Linked DNA regions of Homo sapiens: all the other regions are reported to be linked to region 3. Evidence: microRNA targets listed by miRTarBase, many of them from high-throughput screens and not tested one by one. Region 3 holds a microRNA gene; each other region holds the end of a gene's coding sequence.
The links. The annotated mature microRNA hsa-miR-331-3p reads GCCCCUGGGCCUAUCCUAGAA and lies in region 3 at 1,008-1,028, shown strand. An mRNA with a match to its seed (bases 2 to 7 or 8) in the 3' UTR can be bound and repressed. Matches are read on the target gene's strand: a 7mer-m8 pairs with bases 2 to 8, a 7mer-A1 pairs with bases 2 to 7 and ends in A, and an 8mer does both.

Region 1 (3,080 bases), not on the chromosome of region 3:
GCCCGAGCTGCAGCACCACTGCCCCAGGCTGACCGTACTGGGGGCCCGGCTAACCTCTGCCTCCTTTCCTTCTACCTTCCCAGGGTAATGATGCGGAAGAGCCTAAGGGGGTCACCAGCGAAGGTAGTAGTCCCCGCCCCTGCCCGCCCTCTCCTTTCCCCAGGGCTCTGGCCTCAGGGCCTACCCTCACCCTCTCCCCTTCCTCTAGAATTTGACAAATTCCTGGAAGAACGGGCCAAAGCCGCGGACCGATTGCCCAACCTCTCCAGCCCCTCAGCTGAGGGGCCCCCGGGTCCCCCATCTGGCCCAGCGCCCCGGAAGAAGACCCAGGAGAAAGATGATGACATGCTGTTTGCCTTATGAGTGTGGGGTCTGGCACCCTGCAGCCCAGGTCCCCACTGCTCTCACACCCTTAGGCTGGGACCTCCCTCCCTCCTCTGGTGTTAAGGCTGCTTTGGGGGTGGCTTGTTACCCCCTTTTCCTCCTCTTTGAAGACGGAGCTGCCCCAGCTGTGGCTGGGGGTGTGGAGGCAGTGGGATGAACTGGGGGACAGGTCTGCGCTGCAGTGGGATCTGGCTGCTCTGCCTCCTTTCCCACCCCAGCTGACCATGAGACTTTGCTGAGAAGTGGAGGCCCCAGGACAGGCTGGCTGGCTGGCTGGCTGCTTGACCCAGTGTGACTCTCCTTCACTGAGTGATACCCTGCTCCGGGCCCATGCCCCAAGGAGCCCTTCAGAGCCCACACTGCCAGTCGAGGCCTGGCTGGAGGCTGGCCACAGTGGAAATTCTGCCGAGCCTCTTGTCCCTTCCCTGCTCTGCTGCATGGGGCCCCATGGCTTTGGCTGGCCACTGAGGGTAGGGTGTGGAGGTGTGGAGGCCCCCTGAGGAGCTGCGGCGGCCCAGGTACGAAGCTGCAACTCTGCGCGCAGTGGGCGAGATCTCATCAGCCCCAGGCTGCAGGTGAGGCTTCAGGGGATGCTGGGGCCCCACTGCCCCTCCGCTGCCTTGCCCTCCATCCTTCCTCTGTTCCTTCTGGCCGGGCACCACAGCACTGGGGCTCACCTCTTGGTTGATCCTCTTGTACTGGGAGAGGTGCCTTTTGTATCCCCAATTAAAGGTAGAAAACCACCCTGCTAGCAGCATTGTCAAGTCTCCTGGTCAGAAATGACTTCTTGGCCTCACAGAGGCAGCGACTACTTTGGGCAGGGCTGGGGGCCATCCGAGAGGTGAGCATCTGTAGATGGTGCAGGCGGAAGGACAGGAGCAAACACCCAGCTACACTACGCAGGTGCCGCCTCCTCCCACCTCACATGGCAGGCTCCAGCCACCGCCCCTGCCCGGAGGATGCATGCCCTCCCCAGCTGACACCCCTCCCTCCTCAAGGCACCTTCGTGCTGCTGTTCCATGAGGCCAGCTCCTGCCCTGCACAGAGCACACTAATCACAAGGGCGGGGACCTGTGTGGACTGTGTGCGCATGTGGGGTGCACAGGCCACAGGAGGATGCTGGCCTTCCGAGGCTGGGTGCCAGGCACAGCCTGGGGCTACGCACTGGCTCGTAGCATCACAACAGCCTGGGAGAAGCAAAGTGAGCGTCCTCGATGTATAGATGCGGAGACTAGGACTCCATGAGCCGCCCAGCTCAGAGGAGGAAGCTCATGCAGTTGTCATGTGCCAGCATTTCCTCATGCAGAAGCGCATCCTCCCCATTTTCCAGGCACCAAAGCTAAGTTGGGAAGACATGGCACACAGTTCCAGACGCTGGGCCCCAGGTCAGGTGCAGGGGGTCAGCTCTTCCCTCCATGGCAGCTCAAGAGCCCCAGGTCTTAGGGTGCCACCTTTTCAGGTGTGGGATCTCTAGGCCAGACTCCCTGGGAGTCACTGCTGAGGCATGTTGGAGCCTCCTGGCCCAGGACACGGTCGGGGAACGGTGTGAGGCCAAAGCAATTGGGTCCACAGGGTCCTGGGCTCCTGGGAGAGGGCCGAGGTCTGTGTGAGCAGCCACTGATTCCCATGGGCAGTGGGCAGGCAGCACCTGCCATCTGAGGTATGGTCTGGAGCTGGGCATACAGGAGACCAGGCCCAGCCCAGCCCTCAAGATGGAGTTGGGGCAAGGAAAGCAGCTGGGGGCAGGCACACTGGTGCCAGGCAGGGGAGGGGGAGGCCCTGCCGCCATCAGGATGCTCATGGTCCAGGCCAAGCTCCCTCTGCCACATCCAGGGCATCTGTGAGCTCCTGCCAGGTGCCCTACCCTGGCCCAGCCCTTTCAGTACCTCACAACAGCCCCAGGGGGTCAATGGTGTTGGCCACCAGTTACAAATGGGGAAACTGAGGCTGAGGGAGGAAGGGACTTGCCTGGTCATACACTAAGTAATGGAAGACTGGGACCCCCAACCTTCCTCACTGCTGCCTCACCTGCCTGCCCCACCCACACCCCACTGCCTGCTTCCCTCATTCTCTCCCTACTTAACTGGGGACCTCTTAGAGGGGAGTTGTGATTTTACAAGGATCAAAGCCAAGGCCTCCTCTCCCCTGTGTTAGCTGGGAAACCCAAGGAAACTTCCACAGAAGGCCCCCAGGGCTGGGAGGGCCTCAGGTGCTAAGGGTGAAAACTGCCAGGTTGTTCATTCCTCCCTGTGGGTGCATCCCCTGGGAGCCAGCTGCACACAGCATAGCGCTAGGTGCCCGCCAGACAGAAGTGAAGCGGCCAGGTGCCAGCCCTGTGGGGTCACGTGGGAGGGAAAGGGACGAGAAAGACAGACATAAACTCAATCATTGTTTCACGCTGTGAAAAGAAGAAGATGGGACGGGACGCCCAGGGCCAGGAGGCTCTCTGTGAGGACGGCCTAAGGCTGCTGAGGTAAGATGGGGTGGGCTGGGCCATGAAGGGCCTTGAATGCCAGGCAGGAGGTGGCCCCTGCAGAGGTCTCGGCTTGGCTGGCTGGAACAGTTCCAGGCTGCCTGAAGGCCTCCTTCAGAGAGAAGGCTGCTGGGGCTGCATGGGGGCTGGGGGGGGGGGCGCTGGCGGGAATTCATCAGTGCAGTCAGGCTGGGTTCCCTGGCAGCAGGCTCTGTCTGAGGCT
Region 2 (3,080 bases), not on the chromosome of region 3:
AAGAGCTCCCAGAAGAGTCCAGAGCTGGGGAAGAGCTCTTCCGTCCTCCTGGAGCATCTCAGGAGCCCCCTGGGGGCCAGACCCTACCGCTGCTCAGATTGCAGGGCCTCCTTCCTCGACCGCGTGGCCCTCACCCGGCACCAAGAAACCCACACCCAGGAAAAACCCCCCAATCCCGAGGACCCCCCTCCAGAGGCAGTCACCCTGTCCACAGATCAGGAAGGTGAGGGCGAGACCCCTACCCCCACAGAGAGCAGCAGCCATGGGGAAGGGCAAAACCCCAAAACCCTAGTGGAAGAAAAGCCCTATCTGTGCCCCGAGTGTGGAGCCGGCTTCACAGAAGTCGCAGCCCTCCTGCTCCATAGGAGCTGCCACCCAGGTGTCTCCCTGTGAAATGGGTCTGGAGACCAGGGGCCTCGCTCTCTCCAGAGAGGAACACTGGATTTTTTCCCCCAAAAAAATTACATGGGGAAGGGAGGATAACCCTATCAGATGGTAGTGGAGTGGAGGAGAAAGAACCCTGGGAAAAAATAGTGCTTTTACATCAGTGATGAGAAACCCTATAAAATTGTTGGTGGGAAGCACTTATAAGGCAGTAGAGAAAAACTGTTGGGTTAGAAACCCTATAAATATGTAGGAAAAAAAAAAGCCCTTTAAGTCTGTAGCAGAAAAACCCTATAAACCATAGTGGATAAAAGCCCTATTAATTGTAGGAAGAGGTCCCAATATGTCTCTGAACAACCCTATAAAATTGTATCAAAATCCTTAGGAAAATCCTATAGGGTCGGGGAAGTACCGCAATGGCACTGACCCGGGAGTAACGACCCTCAGATGATGCAGAAAACACCTCTCCCTCACTGTTCCACAATGTTCTCTCCCAGCAGCCCTGGACAGTTCTCATGGAGGAAGATGCTCAGCTGGGGGAGTGGTGTGGGAACTGGGTGGAACTGAAAAGGAAGAAAATAGGAGAAAAATAAGTGACCAGGAGCTCTGGAGCCCCCAGAGGAGATAAGACAGAGACTAGGAAGAAAAGGTCCCACTCACTGCACTGGGGTCCTTGGGGTTTGAGGACAATGTTAGATGCATTGTGTGTTTTAGGGAAAGAGGCCTATGGAATCCCTTATCAAAACCCCAAAATGGGGAAGAAAAAACAAATTGGCAAGCCTTTTTAAAGGCTGAAGTTTGGGGTGCAGAAACATGGTCAGTATAAGAATACTGAGAAACCACCACAAAAATTAGGGGGAAGCAGGGGGCAGTTTCTGTTAGATTGCTTTGAGGGGAGCAAACCAAGGTGGGGAAACTGCTCACATGGAACCCAGCTAACTCCAGGCCCCTTCTTGCTTCCGGAAGCTTGCGAAACTGCAAGTAGCAGGCAGGTCCCAGCTCTCAGAGTGCAAGGGTTCTCCCCACACCAGGCAGGACCACCCTTTCTCCCTGCCCAGCCAGGGACTTCTACTCTGCAAGGCCTCCAGGGATGGCGGTTGCCTCCCACCACATTCTCAGGTCTCACCTTCAGGAGGTTTTTCCTGAAATCTAACTGCCGCCAGTGGCAGCTCATTTCCTCAAATTCTGTCCTCAGTGGAGAGGGAGAACCGCTGCTAGTCGACCTCCAAAGAATAAAGCCCTTCAGAGACTTAGGGCCTGCGTGTGGGCCTCCCCAGCCTTCTCCAAGTCATCAGGGCCACAGAATTTCTTAGAAAGCTTTGATTAGCCAGCAACTTGATTTTAAACTTCAGCTATTCATCTTTGTTGGTAGCAAGGCTGCCCCGCAGGATAAGGCAGCCCTCCTCCCTGGTGGGGATCCAGACACCCCACAGACTGAGCCACAGGTCCCTGAAGAGTCCGCAGAGGCCGTATCACCCTCTTCACCCTGGTACCTGGAGCCCTCCAGGGTTGTGAGATCCAGCCCAATCTCAGCCTTGAGATGGATGGGATGGATTCCACTCACTTGGCTCCCCTCTCCTCCTTAGCCAGAAACCTTCAGAAGGAAACAGAAGGATGAGAAAGCCTCCCTTGCCAGGCCCATCTCACCTCCCACACCACACAGTTACACATTCATAAACAGCCAAGCCTGCTCACAGGCCTGGGCATATGTGGCTGGGGAGAGACTGTTGCCCTATGAGATGGTGGAAGACAGAAAACTCTTGAATGAAACATCTGTAACAAGACTCCCACTCCCTAATCCTGGAGACCCCTTCAAAAGGAGAGGACTCTGCTCAGCGCTGGGTCAGAAAGGAAGTGCTTGCCAACCCCAGTAATGCGCTGTCCTGGAGTAAGAGGACTGAGATGCCAGCTGTGGGGCCCGTCAGGAGTCACGTCTCAAGAGAGGGGTGACCCAGATTTTTGCAAAGCTGTGGAAGAGACCTCTAATTCCATGACCTAAAGTTTCACACAACCTTTATGCAAATCCTTCGCCATTTGTCTATCCTGGCCCCAGCAGGATGACCCTCACATTTAAAAGGATCAAAATCTCAAACATTGTGGGAGGAAAACGCCAGGCCTGCTGGGGAGAGGGAGAAGGCAGGCCTCAGGATTGTGCGGAGAACCATGTTGCCATCTGCATAACGCCCCAGCCTATCCAAGTGCCAGGAAGGGAAGCACTACTGAGGGGGGTGCTGCCTGTGGGTCTCTTCCTAACAGAACGCCAACGAAGGGGGTGCCCTGTAAGAATGAGAAGTCTGCCAAGTCTAAGGAGATGTCCCCCTCCCCAAGATGGTAGCAGAAACTGAAGTTGTAAAGACAAACCTCTCGCAAAGCCAGAAGCAGATGCTCTCAAAAACAGGCCTAAGGAATCTGTTCCCAGAAGAGGCCTGGGGAGCAGCTTTTGGGGCTCAGAGGCCAGTCTGGGGGGAGGCAGGCAGTGTGACTGAAGGCCGGCGCAGGCCTGTTTCGGACTAGGGTGTAGCATATTTAGTAGGATGCTCACATGTTGTAGGGATGGGTGAGGGCTAAGGGGCTTGGCTCTTGTACGGGATGGATGATGTGAGCGCACAGTTCGTAGGGTCAGGCGTCTTGCGGTAGGAAAGGGGCAGGGTTCGATACCTCTGGGGTGTGGCGTGTTCTCTCTTGCCCACCTCCCC
Region 3 (3,080 bases):
GGCGGATCACCTGAGGTCGGGAGTTCAAGAACCGCCTGACCAACATGGAGAAACCCCGTCTCTACTAAAAATACAAAATTAGCCGGATATGGTGGTTCATGCCTGTAATCCCAGCTACTCAGGAGGCTGAGGCAGGAGAATCGCTTGAACCTGGGAGTCGGAGGTTTTGGTGAGCCGAGATTGTGCCAATGCACTCCAGCCTGGGCAACAAGAGTGAAACTCTGTCTCAAAAAAAAAAAAAAAAAAAAAAAGAAGGAAAATGAAATGTGTGATAAATTAAAGTGCATATAGTATTTTTTATGGTATATATTTTAATGTATTTTAGCTTGTCAGCAATGAAATTAGTTTTATCTCTATGTATTGAACTTCATTTAGCAACATATTATTGCAATAGTACAGTATTTAAGCTGCATATTCTCTTGACTGCATTATCCTTTAAAATCAGTATATTCTGTGAGATATGGCTATGGATATATATATTTCCTCTCCTATTTATATCCTAAGATTTTCTTAAAGGATAATTTTACTGTTTTAGGCTTTATGTTTTTCAGTTTTATATCATTTCCTAAAGCTTAGCTACCTACAAATGAATATTATTGAAGAATTTTTCTAAAACTAAAGCATGTCTTTTATAAGTTTACTCTTTTATAATATCCTAAACAAAGCATATCCTTTTCCCCTTCCTTAAGTAAATTCTTAAGGAAATTAACTTCATTTCTAAATCAAAGTATTTTCTGCACTTTTATTGCACCAATCTGTTACCTTCTGTTCATACCATGACTTAAATAATGCTTACTCAGGCACAGTACTATCAGCTGACAACGTACAGAAGGCTCCAGAAATGTCACTCCCATCCCTTAAAGGTTGGTATATGGTCCTGGTACAGTCGTGGAGGTCCATATGGGTGAAAAGCCCAGAAGTCTACCTGAGCTGAAAGCACTCCCAAGGAGTTTGGTTTTGTTTGGGTTTGTTCTAGGTATGGTCCCAGGGATCCCAGATCAAACCAGGCCCCTGGGCCTATCCTAGAACCAACCTAAGCTCGCGCATCATTCCTGGAACATCAAGAGTGTGAAGACTGAAGATAACCTGAGGCCTACCAGACATCCTATATTCACCAAGATTCACATTTTTTGGTATGTGTGCCTACATTTTAGCAAAAATTGGTTGGTTAATCCTTCTAAAATTAGAGGGATGACATTGGGTAACAAAGTCTTCCCAGCCTTTGGCATTATAGTAATTTCTCGCAATAGAAATTCCATACAGATATTATTGCCAGTGAAGAGAGCTATTCTTGTTTATTATCAGTTCTATATTTTTAGCTGAAGCAACTTAGCCCTAAAAAACCCCAAAATCAACTTCTTCCTCCAAATTAAACTCTCCCCCAAATTTAATGGTTTCTGTTTTCTTAAATGTTTTTCTACTTGACACTGTTATGTCAGTCTCATGTAACTGAATAATTGTTCATAATTTCTGAAGAGCATTTAGTCTTTGCCATCTGGCTTCAGTGCCAAATGATTTTCAATTCTTGTTTTTGGAGACTAATGACTTTTTCCTTAATTTATTATCAAATTTGCCACATTTTAGAGCTCACTTTTAGAAGTTCTGCTATGGTTAATGAAAACAAGCTAGAATGACACAGTAGAAATTGGTTAATACGTCACATTTTACATCACTATTTTGTAGAAGATTTTTAGTAAGTTTCTCTATTTTTATTCCTTGCCACTCTGGATTTTACAAATATTCTGACCTAGTTGATCCATCACATGGTCTCATATCACAACTGTTGCATCGCTATATTCACATAGATGTTTTTCTGTTTAATTTAGAAGACAGTATTTCTGAAAAAGTATGAAACGACCCCAAATCCAAAAGTTATGGTGCACAATGAAAATGTATGCTTTTAATAATGCTGGCTTCTGCAGTAGGTGTAGACCATGTTTCAAATAACCACAGACTAATCAGAAACTCCACCTGTGAAAGGAACTTGAAATTGTGCTATTCCTCCAAGCTTATAACACCAGCAAATTGGGTCAATAGGTTATTCCTTTAAAATAGGACTATGAGCCTACAGAGGCTCACTCTGAAGAACTCAGCCGTGGAGTTAGTTCTGTACTATATCCATCACAACAGACATGCTTCATCCCATAGACTTCTTGACATAGCTTGAAATGAGTGAACCCATCCTTGATTTATATACATATATGTTCTCAGTATTTTGGGAGCCTTTCCACTTTTTTAAACCTTGTTCATTATGAACACTGAAAATAGGAATTTGTGAAGAGTTAAAAAGTTATAGCTTGTTTACGTAGTAAGTTTTTGAAGTCTACATTCAATCCAGACACTTAGTTGAGTGTTAAACTGTGATTTTTAAAAAATATCATTTGAGAATATTCTTTCAGAGGTATTTTCATTTTTACTTTTTGATTAATTGTGTTTTATATATTAGGGTAGTACATTTCCTACCCTACCTGAAGACTTGAGATTATAGTCTTTGGGGGGATGGGCAAAGTACTCTCTTTTTTTGCATCTTTTAAATTGTGATTTTTAAAAACACATATAAATTTTACTATCTTAACCATTTTTATGTGTATAGTTCAATGAGATTAAGTCCAGTCACATTGGTGTGAAACAGATCTTCAGAATTTTTTCATCTTGCAAATCTGGGACTCTATACCCATTAAACAACTCCCATTTTCCCCTTCCCCACAGCCTTGGCAACCATCATTCTACTTTTCTCTATGAATTTCACTACTTTAGATACCTCATATAAATGGAATCATACAGGATTTGTCCTTTTGTAGCTGACATATTTCACTTAACATAATGTCCTCAAGGTTCATCCATATTGTAGAATGTGATAGGATTTCCTGCCATTTTAAGGCTGAATAATATTCCACTGCATGTATTTACCACATTTTTTTATCCATTCATCTGTTGGTGGACGTTTGGGTTGCCTCCATCTCTTGGCTATTGTGAATAATGCTGCTGTAAACATGAGTGTGCAAATATCTATAATTTTTTAACACAGTACTTTATTTTCGGTATTTAATCATATGGAATTTTTGTCAATTATGTTAAAG
Region 4 (3,080 bases), not on the chromosome of region 3:
TGCCCTCACACCATTGCTCCCCAAGCAGACACATACACAGGGCTCCATTCTGCCCTCAGGCGTGTCTCTTCCCCCCACCCCCCGGAGCTCCACATGGGCCCTCACCAGGCGGATGTCATCCTGCGGCCTCAGCAGCTGTACCATGAGGTGCAGGTGCTGCCTCTGCTCCTCCTGCTTCTGGGGACTCTGGGATCCTTGCCCGAAGTCTGTCTGGTCCCCGTGGAGCTCCTCCTCACTCGGGGCCTTCTCTGTTGGCTCAGAACTGGCCTCTGCTGCATCATCATTGTCCCCTCCATCCTGCAGTCCCAGGACAGCCCCACGGAGCACCGCAAAGCTCTGCCTGGCAGGGCAGTGGGCAACTGTCATGGCTCCTCATTCCCCTTAGGGTAGGGGCTCTCAAAGTCTAGCATGCATCACATTCACCTGCAGCCCTTGTCTACACGGATTCATGGGCCCCCACGCGGTCGATAGGTCTAGAGTGGAGGCCTGAGCATCTGCATTTCTAACCCCTCGGCCCCTTGGCAATATTGCTGAGAACCAGTCTTGGGGGCTTCCAAGCTCTCAGCCCCTCTACTCTAGCTCATCTGTGGGGAGAGGGGGCTGCTCCTTTTCCCCTCCCACCTGTTTAACTCAAGTGCTGCTGGGAACATGGTCGGGGACCCAGGAGTCCTCAGGCCCATCATGCCCTCCTGCCGTTCGGCCCGTGGCCACCACCTGAGCCAAAGCCCAGGGCAGTGGATGAGGAAGCCCCAGCTGACCAGGGGGAGGGTGAAGGCAAAGGCCGCCCTACCGCGAGCCCACCAGCCGGCCCCACCGGGAACGCTGCCCCACAAATTTGGCAGTGGGCTTCGCTGCGCGTCCTCCGGGGAGCTTTCTGTCCCTGCAGCTGGAGCCCAGGACGGCCGTGGCCAGGCCCGGGGCAGACGGAAGTGTCTGCGTGGGGGAGGTGGCGCTCACCTTCGCTGGAGTCGACTCCTTCGCTGGACCGCCTGGTCCTGCGGAGAGAGCAGCCCCAGGGCAGGGTGAGGGCGGGGAGGGCTGTCCCCTCCCCTCTCTCAGGAATTCTAGAGTTGGGGGAGGCCAGAAAAGGCGCCAGATGCCAATCGTCTTCCCACCCCAGTCCACGCCCCACCGGGAGGCCCCGTGGAGCCCCGGCCCAAGGCCAGGTCGGCTGGGTGGGCGCCGAGTGTGGCGGGGGGCGCGCTCAGATCGGGGCCTCCGCAGCCCGGGCGGCGCGCAGGGCTCTGGATTGTGCCCCGGCGCCAGTACCAGAGACCCTCGAGGCCCCCAGCGCCCTCCAGCCCGAGCCCCGGGGCCCCCTCCTCATGTCCCCGTTCGAGAGGAGCCCGCTGGCGGGCAGGACGCGCTCCCAAGCCGGGGCAGCAACTGCGTGGGCGGCACCACGGCCGGACCACACTCACCCAGGGCCCCACGGGCGTGGAGGCGCCGCTGCCCGGGGGCGAACGGCTCACTGTGACCAGGGCCATGGAGCCAGGCCGCGAGCACCTGGGCTGGCACCGGGCACGGCCCCTTCCCTCAACCCCGCGGACAGTCCTGGACCCGCAGGACCAGGAAGGACGGACGGCGCCACCCGGGCCTGGCACCTCCTCGGGGGCGGCCCTTAAAGGGCCAGACACTCGCCCAGCCGGGCCCGCGGAGCTTCTCAGGGCGGCCGGGCCCCGCCCCTCCGGTCTCCGCTGTTCGGCCCGCCCAGCCCCTGGGCACAGGTCAGGGGCGAGGCCGGGGGCGGGCGCAGGTGCGGAGCCCGGAGACCCGGAGGGCAAGAGCTGAAGGCCGGGAGTTTGGTCCCCCTCCCAGGAAGCGCCCGGCCCGGGCCGGCCCAGCGGGAGCACCTGAGCTGTTCTGGGCCTCCAGCGTCCTGTGCCCTGCAGAGGCGGGTCCTAGGGAGGCAGAGCTGAGGTGGGGAGGTGGGGGACAGGTCTAGAGAGGATCAGGCACGGCGCGCCCTCGGCCAAGGGCCCCCACCCCAAACATTTCTCCCTGCTGGTCGGCCTTCTCGTTCCCACTCCGCAGGAACCACTGGAAGACAGGCTTCCGGGGAAAACGGCCTGGGGTTTACAAATAACCCAGGAAGCCCATGAGGGGCTCTCAGGTCCACCTCGGAGGCGAGCAGGGCAGGGCTTCCAGCTACGCAGGCGGAAGTGACTTGCGCAAACCCACCCGCAGAGAACAAGCCGCAGTCAGGGCCAGGGCCTGGGCTTGGCTGCAGGGGTCGGCGTCGGGGCTCTTCCCAGCTGGAGGTGAATGGTGCCTGGGGACCCAGGCTTTTCCTCCCCAGCAGGCACGTGGGCCGGTTTCCAGAAGACTAGGCTGGGTGGCAGGACGAACCGGGTCCCCAGCAGGTGGGACAGGGCACAGGGGATCTGACTTTCACAGGACGCCTGCTTGGTAAGGACACGTGACTCTCGCCAGCTCCTTTCAGCCCTGAGGGGCGGAGGGTGGGGGGTGGTCTCCTCATTTTACAACTGAAGAAACTGAGGCTCAGATAGGCTAAGGGGACCATGACCAGGATTCAAGCCCAGGTCTGAGGCCGCCATCCACAGTGCCTCTCCACAGCGCCCCACCTTCAGGGTCCCCACCGCTCCAGCCCAGTGAGCAGAGCAGCCCTGCTGCGACAGTCTCTTTATTTCCATCTCAGTCTCCCCTGCCTGCTCATTCCTGGGGCTCCAGGCCCCAAGCTCAGCAGCAGAGAGTTTATAAATAAATAAATTACAAAAGCGGGCAGGGAGTGGCCTGGCCAGCCCTCCCGGGGCTATGGCTCAGTGCTCAGTGAGTGACAGCTGCAGGATCCGCTGTAAGTCCTCCTCCTCCTGCTGCCCGCGCCGCTCCCGCTCCTCCTGCTCCCGTGAAGACAACTCCAGGGCCAGGCGCAGCTGCTCTTCAAAGCTGGGTGGACCGGGGGCTGGGGGTGTCCTGGGAGGGGATCCTGGGCCCCTGGGCTCTGTGGACAGCTGCAGGCTTTCCTGGAGGGCCCTTCCAGGCAGGGCAGGGGAGGGAAGAACAGGCCAGTGAGCGCCAAGGCTGGGGCAGAAGCCGAGGGGCTGGGGACCGGCTTTGGA
Region 5 (3,080 bases), not on the chromosome of region 3:
CCTCGGCCTGGGGCTGGGCTGAACCTTCTATGAAAACCTTGACCCAGGGTCAGCTGATGATAAGAGTGCGGCAAGGCCTCACCCCTTACCACTCAGTTTAGAGTACGGCAGAGGGGCATCTTGAACCTGGGCTGTGACACTAATGGCTCACCCTTAGTGAGCTGAAGTCCCAGAGAATGAGCTGCACATTTCATATATGTTACAAATTTAATCTTCCATCTTTCACATTCGTCTATCTTCCCACTCTCAAGTATCCCCGGTGCCCCCGACATTTCTTCACTACCAAAGCCAAGGACACAGGAAGCCACAGACTAAGGAGTTCACAAGAAACTGATCTTTACTCAACAAAGTTCTACACAAGTGGAATCTCACGCCACCTCGGCGCCAATCCCCAGCACAGCACAGTAACAAATGGACAGACCCGGGAGCCCGCAGGGGGAAGAGGGTGAGGAGGGAAAGAGGGACTGTGGCTCAAGGCCAGTCTGGGTCCACAGCCCTGGGTAGGGGAGAAGGTTGAGAAGCTGAAACTTCATTGTGCAAAAAACAACCAAAAATAAATTAAAAAATTAAATAGTTTTTTTTTAAAAAAAAAAAAAAAAAGGAAAACGAGAAGAACCAGGCTCCCCTTCCCTGAAGGTGTTTGTATCCCCCCATCTTGAGTAGCGAGGGGTTACCAATCCCATCAGACAGCCAATCCATCCACACACCCCAAGACCCAGCAGAGGATGCTTCAAAGAACTGGAATTACCAGAAAATTAAAAGGTATTTTTAAAACTTTTTTTTTTTTTTTTAACAAATGGCTTCCAGAGACCTGCTCGAGTTTCATGGGGTGGGCGTGCAGGGACACCCAGCTAATTTATGGAATGTGTACTGAGTGCCCCTTGGAATAGATGCAGGGCCTGACCCTGACTATGGAAAGACACAGGGCTTGGATGGAGGGTCTGGCGCCCAGGAGGGATGGATGGAGCAGGCCCCAGGATGCGAGACTCCAGTCAGACTCCAAAACACAAGGGGCTCCCCAAAGAAGTAGAAAGCAGGGAAGGAAAAAAAGGGAAAAAATGCTAAGGGGGTCTGCAAGGCCCAGTTTTCTGGCCAACTGGGAAGTAACTACACCCCCACCCTCTCTAGGGGAGCCCCTTCCACCTTGACCATGTTCCCAGACTATTCCGGAAGGTTCTCTAGAATTGCTGACCCAGTCTAGTAGGATCTCTGGGCTCACTGGGTACTATGATGAGCAGGAAGTCCCAGGGAGATGGAATAGGGAACAGGGGACACACCACCTTTCCCTTCCACCAAGCCTTGGTTTTCCTTTTTGCTGGCAAAAACCTGTGTCCTCTGTCATCATCAATTAAACGCCCCTGCCCCAGGCCTTGAGTTAAAACTGGGGCCTGAAACGTGAGAAGGGGGTTTCAGAAGCACAGAGAAACGGACTGCCCCTGAAGCTGCTTACAGAGAGAGATGCTCGGGGTAGGTGCCAGTAGCTCTGGCTACACCCAGCTCTCTTCAGGAAAAAGGTCCCAACCCAGTGTCTTCAAAAGCCACTGGAGCACACAGGAAGGAGAAACGGTGACCTCTGGCCAGCCCCAGCCACTCCAGTGGTTCTCACCCTGCGAGCTAGGCTAGGATAAGGACGGAGACACCACCAGCTGAGGCTGCAACAAAGCTGGCAGGGAGTGTGTGGAGTGGGTCCCAAGCATGTGCGTGCTGACAGGGCGACTCCCAAGGTCACCATCCTCCTCCCCCCGCCCCGAGATCCCGCCTGAGGCCCCCCACCCACCCAGCCCTCCCCAGTCACCGCCAATTCCGGCAAAACAGCAGAAGCTTCTTAAACTCTAGATGCAGGTTACACGGAAGGCCTTACGGGTTAACTCAGGGGTTCACTAATTCTACTGTCTCCATGCAGTCGGGGAAATGGTGGAGCGGCTGGCCCAGCCTCGCCGGTTATGGCACCCGCACATGCGTGTGGCCATGTGTGTCCGTGTGAGTGTACGCGTCCCTACGAGGGCCCCCCTCCTGACCTGCTCCTCCCTCACCTCATCCGAAGCCGGATTCGGTCAGCTGTGTAATTCCTCCCTCCCACGTAGCTGGCCCAAGTGGGCTGCCAGAGATGACCCTATTAGAGCCCAGGGGCCCTTGCCCACCAGAAGTCCCCCCCACCTCCCCGTTTGTAGGATGAGCATGGTGGCCCCACCCACCTGCCAGGAGGGCAAGTGGACGGATGGACGGACGGACGGACGGACGGGGAAGGCATCTGGATTTGAGTCCCACTCACTCCTCCCTAACCCCCCTCAACCAGGGCACAGCGACTTCCGGATGCAGCGCACTCCCCAGTAATCCCTCCGACGACGACGCAGACAGAAACCTGCAGGGGGAGGAGGAAGGTCATGGCCTGGGACCTTTCGGCCCCCAAGACAGTGCTGACTTGCCAGCTGCAGTCTCCTTACCTGGCAGTCTCCATGATCACCTAGACCCCATAGAAAGCCGCCAGCCTCTCCTTGAGCAGCGGCGGGAATTGCTCAGAGAACTGCTGCCAGTTATCTTCCCCAACTTGGTCTTTGAAGCCGTGGAGAATCTGTGGGGAGGGTGGTGGTGAGGGGTAGGCAGGGGCAGAACAAGGGGAGTGCGCCTCTTCCCCCATCCCCAGGCCCCATTGTTACCAGATGGTCTCACCCCTGCCTGCTCCCGGAACTAGATCAGGGCCCAGACAGAGCCTCACCTTATAAAACATGTCCCGAAGGTCATCCTTCGGGCTCACCCAGGAGGCTACAGCATCGCAGAAGAAAATAAAGTCCTGAAACGTGACGGATCCCAGGTGAGGGGCCGCCCGAGCCCAGCGCCCGCGCCTGCCCTCAGAGCCCAGCTGCCCCAACCTGCACAACGCCCCCCGGGTTGACACCGATCATCATGCAGATGCCGCGGAAGGCTGAGTCCTTCTCCTCGTTGTCCCTGATGTTCCTGAGGGACGTGCACCTGTGGGAAGGTGAGCAGCTGGAGGTCAGAGGGCAGGCTGGGCATGCATCTGTGGAGGGCTGGGTCACTGGGGATCAGTGAGTGGGCCTGGGACATGCATCTGTGGGGGT
Region 6 (3,080 bases), not on the chromosome of region 3:
AACAGTGGGCAATGCACCCTGGAAGCTCTACATTCCCTTTGCCAACAGGATCTCACTTCCTGGTTCCCATTTTCAGGTCCTGTTCTTCCCTACCTGCAACAGCTTCATTTATAGCCTGCTCAAAGAGATTTTCCCTATGAATGTTAAAATGATGCAAGCAGCCTATATTACTACTGAAACCTAATAGAGTCCCAAACTGAACTGTCCCTTCAGGAATATAGACCTGGTTTCCTCAAGAACTTGGCCAAGGGTTCATCCTGACCAGAAGCCATACAGGCTTCTAGCCATCTGTGTGCTTGCCCTCTTATTGAGGCCCTCCACGGTACTTCTACATCTCTAGGTATTTGAGGCCATATCTGAGGAGTCTGATGGGTCTGGGCACACATGCTTTGCACAAGTCCTCTCAAGGGTTGGCCCAGCTACAGGTTATAGACAAAACTAAAAACATCCCACTTTTCTAGTTCAAAAACTTGACATTGCTGGTCCCTGTTTTTACCTTCCCTGGCCCACCAAGAGTATGTCTCTACATACAACTCAGTAGCTGCATGTTGTTTTTTGTTAGATAAGGTGAAGGCAGACTAAGAATGGAGAGAAGATATATCAAAGGGTCCATCTTTATGTCTTGAGCTTGAATAAGCTTTTCCTTTCATGGGACTTCTGTGCAGAATAACCCCTATTCCTCCACCTTGTTCACTTTTTCCTGTATAGCACAGTTCTTCCAAGGCAGAGGTTTGAGACCAGACCAGCAATGATGATCCTCTAAAAAGACAAACACTGTGCCATGCTTACACATCTCTCCATTTCCACTTCAAAGTCTCTCAGCACTTAAAGCTGAAGAGATCTTGCTGCAAACTGGGTACTAGCAAAGAGAAGTGTTTTGAACTCTTCTCAAGCAATAGAACTTCAGATTAATATAATCGTTTCTCACTTGTTTCAACAAAGATGAGAGCTTGGCGATGCCATTTTGGCTCCTGCCTTCTCTTGGCTTATCAAGTTCTGGGTGGCAGTGCTCATCCCTTACCCTCATTCTGAAACCCTGGCCAACCATCCAGCCCTCAGGATGAGCCTCAGCAGCATCTATGAGCTCACATGTAGCCTGGTCTCTCCAGCTTTGAGGAAATTTGTATGTCTGTGTGCACATCCTCTTCCCCATGACTATCAAGATATGATAGGATATGGTGAGGTAGGGGGGTTGGGGAGGGGCAAGGAAGTACTTCCCTCCCCAGAAGCAACTCAGTAGCTGACAAAGGTAGTGAAGAATTCTGTTTGATGAGTCTCTCCTCCCATCAATCCAAGCTGGAAATGCCTGTGTGGCTTATTTGTCATTGTTTGGTGATGCACAATTATACTCTTGCCACTAGCCATCTTTCTGCTACTAGCCAGTAGCATCTTTCTGAAGTGTCTTAAAGTACAGTTTCCCCCGACTGACCTCATAGCAAAGCCCTTGCGTTAAGTCTCAGGAGTCCATCTGGGTCAATGAGTGCAGCCTCCACGCTAAGCTGCTCCAGGCTTTAGAGTTTGGAGGACAGGATTATAGGCAATCTTTCTTAGACAAGGCCAAAGATGGCTTTGGGGATCTCAAAAGAGGGTGGGAACCTTGGGCTTGAGCAACAAAATAATATCTAGGATATTATTTAGTGAAGGACAGTTGGGCCAGAGGCAACAAGCCACAAGCCATGGTTGGCTCTGTCGACTTTATGGTAACAATGTCTCCATCCCTAGAGGCATCCAGTCCAGGCATGGCTGCCCCCACAGTGCAGAGCTGGTGACATTTCCTTAAAGATGATAACCAAAAAGCTGGTTTTAAAACATAAAGGAACAATCCCAACTAATCCTCAGGTTACACCTAAGGGTAAGGTAAAGGCCATTTTTAGGCTTCCGAAATCTGAACTATTTCAATGGCATTACTGGAGGAGGCTAAGTCTGAAACGCCCTGTGAAGGCCTATGGAAGTAACTGTTGATTTATGTCCTGAACCAAGTGCTCTGACTGTAAGTGAAGGAAATGAGATGAACAGGGAAGGGATTGGGTCTCTGATTCCATGAAAACTGGCTTTCAAGATCCAGAAAAACTCTTCGAGTTGAGACTCAACACTCCTAGAGCTGGGGCAATATGCAGTTAAACATGGGATCCAATTATTACTGCTGTCTACTTAGCTGTATCCTGCCCTAGAAAAAATTGCAATAAAAGCCTGGGGTTAGATCAGGCTAAAGAAACCGCCATTCTTGGGGGATTGGAATGAAGCTGTCATCTTGCCATATGCCATGCTTGTTCACAAGCCAGTGAAAGTCAGCAGACTGAGGAGATGACCCTCCAGAGCTGCCCTTAGTGTACTAAATAGTAATGTTTGCCATGCCCTTTCCTTGTATTGAGAAGAATCAGCCTCATCTATGTGGTGAATGGGCATCCAAGAGTGAACAGGACATATTTTAGTATCCTTTTGCTTACTCACTCTACCTCCCAGCGCCAGATACCCACTTTTTATGGTTCCTAAGCCCCAGACCTAAGCTTTAGAGCCATGGATGAAAGGTGGTTCATCACTGTGGAATTGATGATACCACCATCTCTAAGATAACACAGATAGTGTAGTAATAACTTCCCCTGAGTCCCAGCCTAGCAACATCTCATGTACTTGCTTATTCTTGTGCCTCTTTTACTATAGGGAAATGTTATGTGAATACTGCACAGGGGTTAATAAAAAAATACATATGCTCTCTTTGAAGAAGAATGCACAAATGCAGGGTCAGCTGGGGCTGGACCCCAGACTGACACAGAGGCTGCAGCAGGTCGCCTCTGTGGGTCCGGGGTCACCCTTCATGAGTGGTGGCTGCTGATGAGTCCTCGGAGCTGCTTGGCCACGGTGTCAATGAGTTTCTGCTTGTCTCGCTCATTTTTCCGAAACTGTGCAAACATGTTGTTCTTGCGGCTAGTATCCTTCATCCTAAACAGAGAAGGAAAGAAAGAGGGCAACATGTTTGAGGAAACAATGGTGGAAGGAGAACCTGCAGGAAGCAGGATGGCAATGCATCTTAACCACTACCCAGAGTAATGAGAGAGTCCAGAATATCTCCACTGTCAGGC
Region 7 (3,080 bases), not on the chromosome of region 3:
TGCAGTGACTTCCTCCACTAAAGTCTGGAACCCTACAAAGACATCCATTGAGAGTTGGAATCAACTTCATCCAATCTCTTGTTAATGCTGATATTCTGACCTCCTCCAATGAATCACGAATATTCTTAATGGCACCTGGAATGGTGAATCCTTCTAATTGAATCCTTTCCAGAATATTTTCAATTTACTTTGCCCTGATCCATCAGAGGAATCACTATCTATGGCAACTATAGCCATACAAAATGTATTTCTTAATAAGACTTGAAAGTCAGAATTATTCCTTGATCCATGGAGTAATTCTGCATGGAGCTGCAGAATAGATGTTAACAGGCATAAAAACATTAATCTCCTTGTACATCTCCACCAGAGCTCTTGGGTGACCAGGAGCCTTGTCAATAAGCAGTAACGTTTTGAAAGAAATTTTTTGAGCAGGTCTCAACAGTGGGCCTAAAATATTCAGCAAACCATGCTGTACACAGATATACTATCATACTGACTTTGTTGTTCCATTTACAGAGCACAGAGTAGACTTAGCAATAATTCTTAAGGGCCTTAGGTTTTTCAGAATGGCAAATGAGCATTCTCTTCAACATAGTCACTAGCTGCATCAATCTCTAACATTAAGAGTCCGCCTGCCCTTTTAAGCCAGGCATTGATTTCTCCTCTCTAGCTATTAAAGATTTAGATGGCATCTTCTTCCAATAGAAGGCTGTTTTGTCTACACACTGAAAATCTGATATTTAATGTAGCCACTTTCAAATCAATGACCTTAGCTAGATCTTCTGAATAACTTGCTGCAGCTTCTATATTAGCACTTGCTACCTCACCTTCTATTTTTATGTTATAGAGAAGGTTTCTTTCCTTAAACCTCATGAATCAACCCCTGCTAGCTTCAACCTTTTCTGAAGCTTCCTCACTTCTCTCAGCCTTCATGTAATTGAAGAGAGTTAGGGTCTTACTCTGAATTAGGCTTTGGCTTAAGGGAATTTTATGGCTAGTTTCATTTATCCAGACCACTAAAACTTTCTCCATATCAGTAATAAAGCTGTTTCACTTTCTTATCATTGGGTGTTCACTGGAGTAGCACTTTTAATTTCCTTCAAGAACTTTCCTGTTGCATTCACAACTTTGCTGTATGGCACAAGAAGCGTAGATTTGGGCCTAAGTTTTCGACATGCCTTGCTCACTAAGCCTAATCATTTCTAGCTTTTCACTTAAAGTGAGAGACATGACTCTTCCTTTCACTTCAACACTTAAAGTCCACTGCAAGGTTATAAGCTGGGGCCTAATTTCAATATTGTTGTGTCTCTAGGAAGAGGGAGGTCTGAGGAGGAGAGAGACAGGAACCACTGGTCAGTGGAGCAATCAGAACATACATAATATTTATCAATTAAGTTCTCTGTCTTATTAGGGCACAGTTCATGGCATTCCAAAGCAATTACAATAGTAACAACAATCACTGGCCACAGATCACCACAACAGATTTAATAATAGTGAAAAACTATGAAATACTCCAAGAATTATCACAATATACGAGACATGAAAGGAGAAGTTTTATTGGAAACATGGCACCAATAGACTGGCTCAACGCAGAGTTGCCATAAACCTTCCATTTGTAAAAAATGCATTATTTGCAAAGTGCAATAAAGCAAAACGCAATAAGATGACATATGCCTGTATCTGTATCAATAGGAGGAACATTGCCATTTTCTTCTACATGACATAAAATTGTACTAAAAGGCACTAGTATGTGCCTTTCTGGGTGGCAGGCCTCCACTCTCATGATGTTTTAACAAAGCAAAGTAGATATACTTACGGATTCAAATTTTGACTACTGAATAACTCATTTCAAAAAGAAAATTCAGCTCAATAAAATTCAGTATCTGTCTAAAACTATTTGTCAGGGTAATAAGTTCATGGGAGGTCCAAAGACAAAGTATGTAGTCCTATTCTATACTAAAGTAAACCTGGATTGAGATTTATAATAAAAATCACAACACAACAGTATTACTTGGTAAAGTCCTCAAAGTAGATTTTATTTATACATTTCTTCAAATGATTGTGGTATTTTAAAAAATCTCTCCCAAATTTGATGACATAGGGACAGTGGTGAGAACAAAGTATCCCTAAAGGAAACAAATATCGATTGGTGCTTTCCTAGCTCACTGAGCTAACACTCAGAAGCCAATTTATTCTATAATCCTAAAGAACCTTAAATGTGGGTTTGTTTGAATTGGCCTTCTGAGAATCATTGAAATAAAGGAAATATTACGGAAAAGAGATTAGTTTCCAAAAATGTGCTGTCTTTGAAAATAAGTCTTCAGACATGTGTGTCGGAAAAGATCTGCAAAGCTTGGTACAGTGTTAATGTGTAAAGAGAACCAATCACCTCCATGGACTTTAAAACTCAAAATTATCTATGAAATACTTTAAATGACATGGCATTACCAACATTCTTTAAAGCATTTCATTTAAAAGAAAAATGTAAGACTGTTCTCACCCTTTTGAAAAGACCTAATCCCTTTCTAAACCAAAAGTATAATTTGCAAGAGAAACAACATTACAATTCACTGGTAAATTAAGATTTCTGAAGTTGTAAGAAATGGGGCCAAAACAAGTCACGCTCAAAAAGGGATGGTTAACACAAGAAATGTGCTATGAGTAAAGTGCATGAAAGAAAGCCTGCTCAGCTAAATGAAGTAGACAAAGATCAGAAGTCAAGGGTCATTCGCCAGAGCGGCAGCAGGCTCGAAAACCACACTGCAAATTCTGGCATCCACTGGCGGTATCAGCATGAGGACCTGTATGAAAACAGAAAAATGTGAAAGGAGGAATTTCTTAGAGATCACATAAAAATAATTTTGCTTATGAAGGAGTTAAACATTCATTGGTTTTACTAGCAGTACTTATATGATAGAAGTAAATCTCATGATAAGTGTATAAGAAATTATTCAGACACAAAACTCAATAGCAGCTTGACTTTAATTAATATATCCTTCATGGTCCAAAAGGTAAGTGGAAGAAGGGAAAAAAATAATTTTTAGCAACAACTTACAATATAAAAATCCAAAATGGAAATG

Region 1: the mRNA of TOM1 is a reported target of hsa-miR-331-3p. Seed matches in the 3' UTR shown: 7mer-A1 at 969-975.
Region 2: miRTarBase lists ZNF629 as a target of hsa-miR-331-3p. Seed matches in the 3' UTR shown: 7mer-m8 at 408-414.
Region 4: miRTarBase lists ANKRD13D as a target of hsa-miR-331-3p. Seed matches in the 3' UTR shown: 7mer-A1 at 2,662-2,668.
Region 5: the mRNA of TNPO2 is a reported target of hsa-miR-331-3p. The part of its 3' UTR that is shown has no 7-base or 8-base seed match.
Region 6: the mRNA of EXOC6B is a reported target of hsa-miR-331-3p. Seed matches in the 3' UTR shown: 7mer-A1 at 2,597-2,603.
Region 7: the mRNA of FBXL5 is a reported target of hsa-miR-331-3p. The part of its 3' UTR that is shown has no 7-base or 8-base seed match.

The regions. Positions count from the first base shown.
Region 1 is chr22:35,346,847-35,349,926 of GRCh38, forward strand. TOM1 (target of myb1 membrane trafficking protein) reads left to right here. Exons shown (of 15, transcript NM_005488.3): 14 at 84-123; 15 at 209-1,127. The coding sequence ends at 363. Among named protein-coding and RNA genes, the nearest start is that of MIR6069, 12 kb to the left of the region's middle. RefSeq lists enhancers at 2,471-3,003, 3,004-3,080.
Region 2 is chr16:30,779,031-30,782,110 of GRCh38, reverse strand. ZNF629 (zinc finger protein 629) reads left to right here. Exons shown (of 3, transcript NM_001080417.3): 3 at 1-3,080. The coding sequence ends at 393. Among named protein-coding and RNA genes, the nearest start is that of ZNF629, 6.6 kb to the left of the region's middle.
Region 3 is chr12:95,307,473-95,310,552 of GRCh38, forward strand. It overlaps MIR331 (microRNA 331), which reads left to right and starts at 948; the gene lies at 948-1,041. It overlaps MIR3685 (microRNA 3685), which reads left to right and starts at 2,451; the gene lies at 2,451-2,512.
Region 4 is chr11:67,302,033-67,305,112 of GRCh38, reverse strand. It overlaps ANKRD13D (ankyrin repeat domain 13D), which reads right to left. Exons shown (of 15, transcript NM_207354.3): 15 at 2,629-2,994. The coding sequence ends at 2,781. SSH3 (slingshot protein phosphatase 3) reads right to left here and starts at 1,583. Exons shown (of 14, transcript NM_017857.4): 1 at 1,422-1,583; 2 at 958-995; 3 at 106-340. The coding sequence starts at 1,487. RefSeq lists enhancers at 1,396-1,915, 1,916-2,433.
Region 5 is chr19:12,698,882-12,701,961 of GRCh38, forward strand. It overlaps TNPO2 (transportin 2), which reads right to left. Exons shown (of 26, transcript NM_001382241.1): 23 at 2,871-2,970; 24 at 2,717-2,791; 25 at 2,445-2,572; 26 at 320-2,362. The coding sequence ends at 2,465. Among named protein-coding and RNA genes, the nearest start is that of SNORD135, 3.2 kb to the right of the region's middle. RefSeq lists enhancers at 2,257-3,080, 2,734-3,080.
Region 6 is chr2:72,176,522-72,179,601 of GRCh38, forward strand. EXOC6B (exocyst complex component 6B) reads right to left here. Exons shown (of 22, transcript NM_015189.3): 22 at 1-2,940. The coding sequence ends at 2,814. Among named protein-coding and RNA genes, the nearest start is that of CYP26B1, 30 kb to the left of the region's middle.
Region 7 is chr4:15,602,999-15,606,078 of GRCh38, forward strand. FBXL5 (F-box and leucine rich repeat protein 5) reads right to left here. Exons shown (of 11, transcript NM_012161.4): 11 at 1,383-2,801. The coding sequence ends at 2,725. Among named protein-coding and RNA genes, the nearest start is that of FBXL5, 51 kb to the right of the region's middle.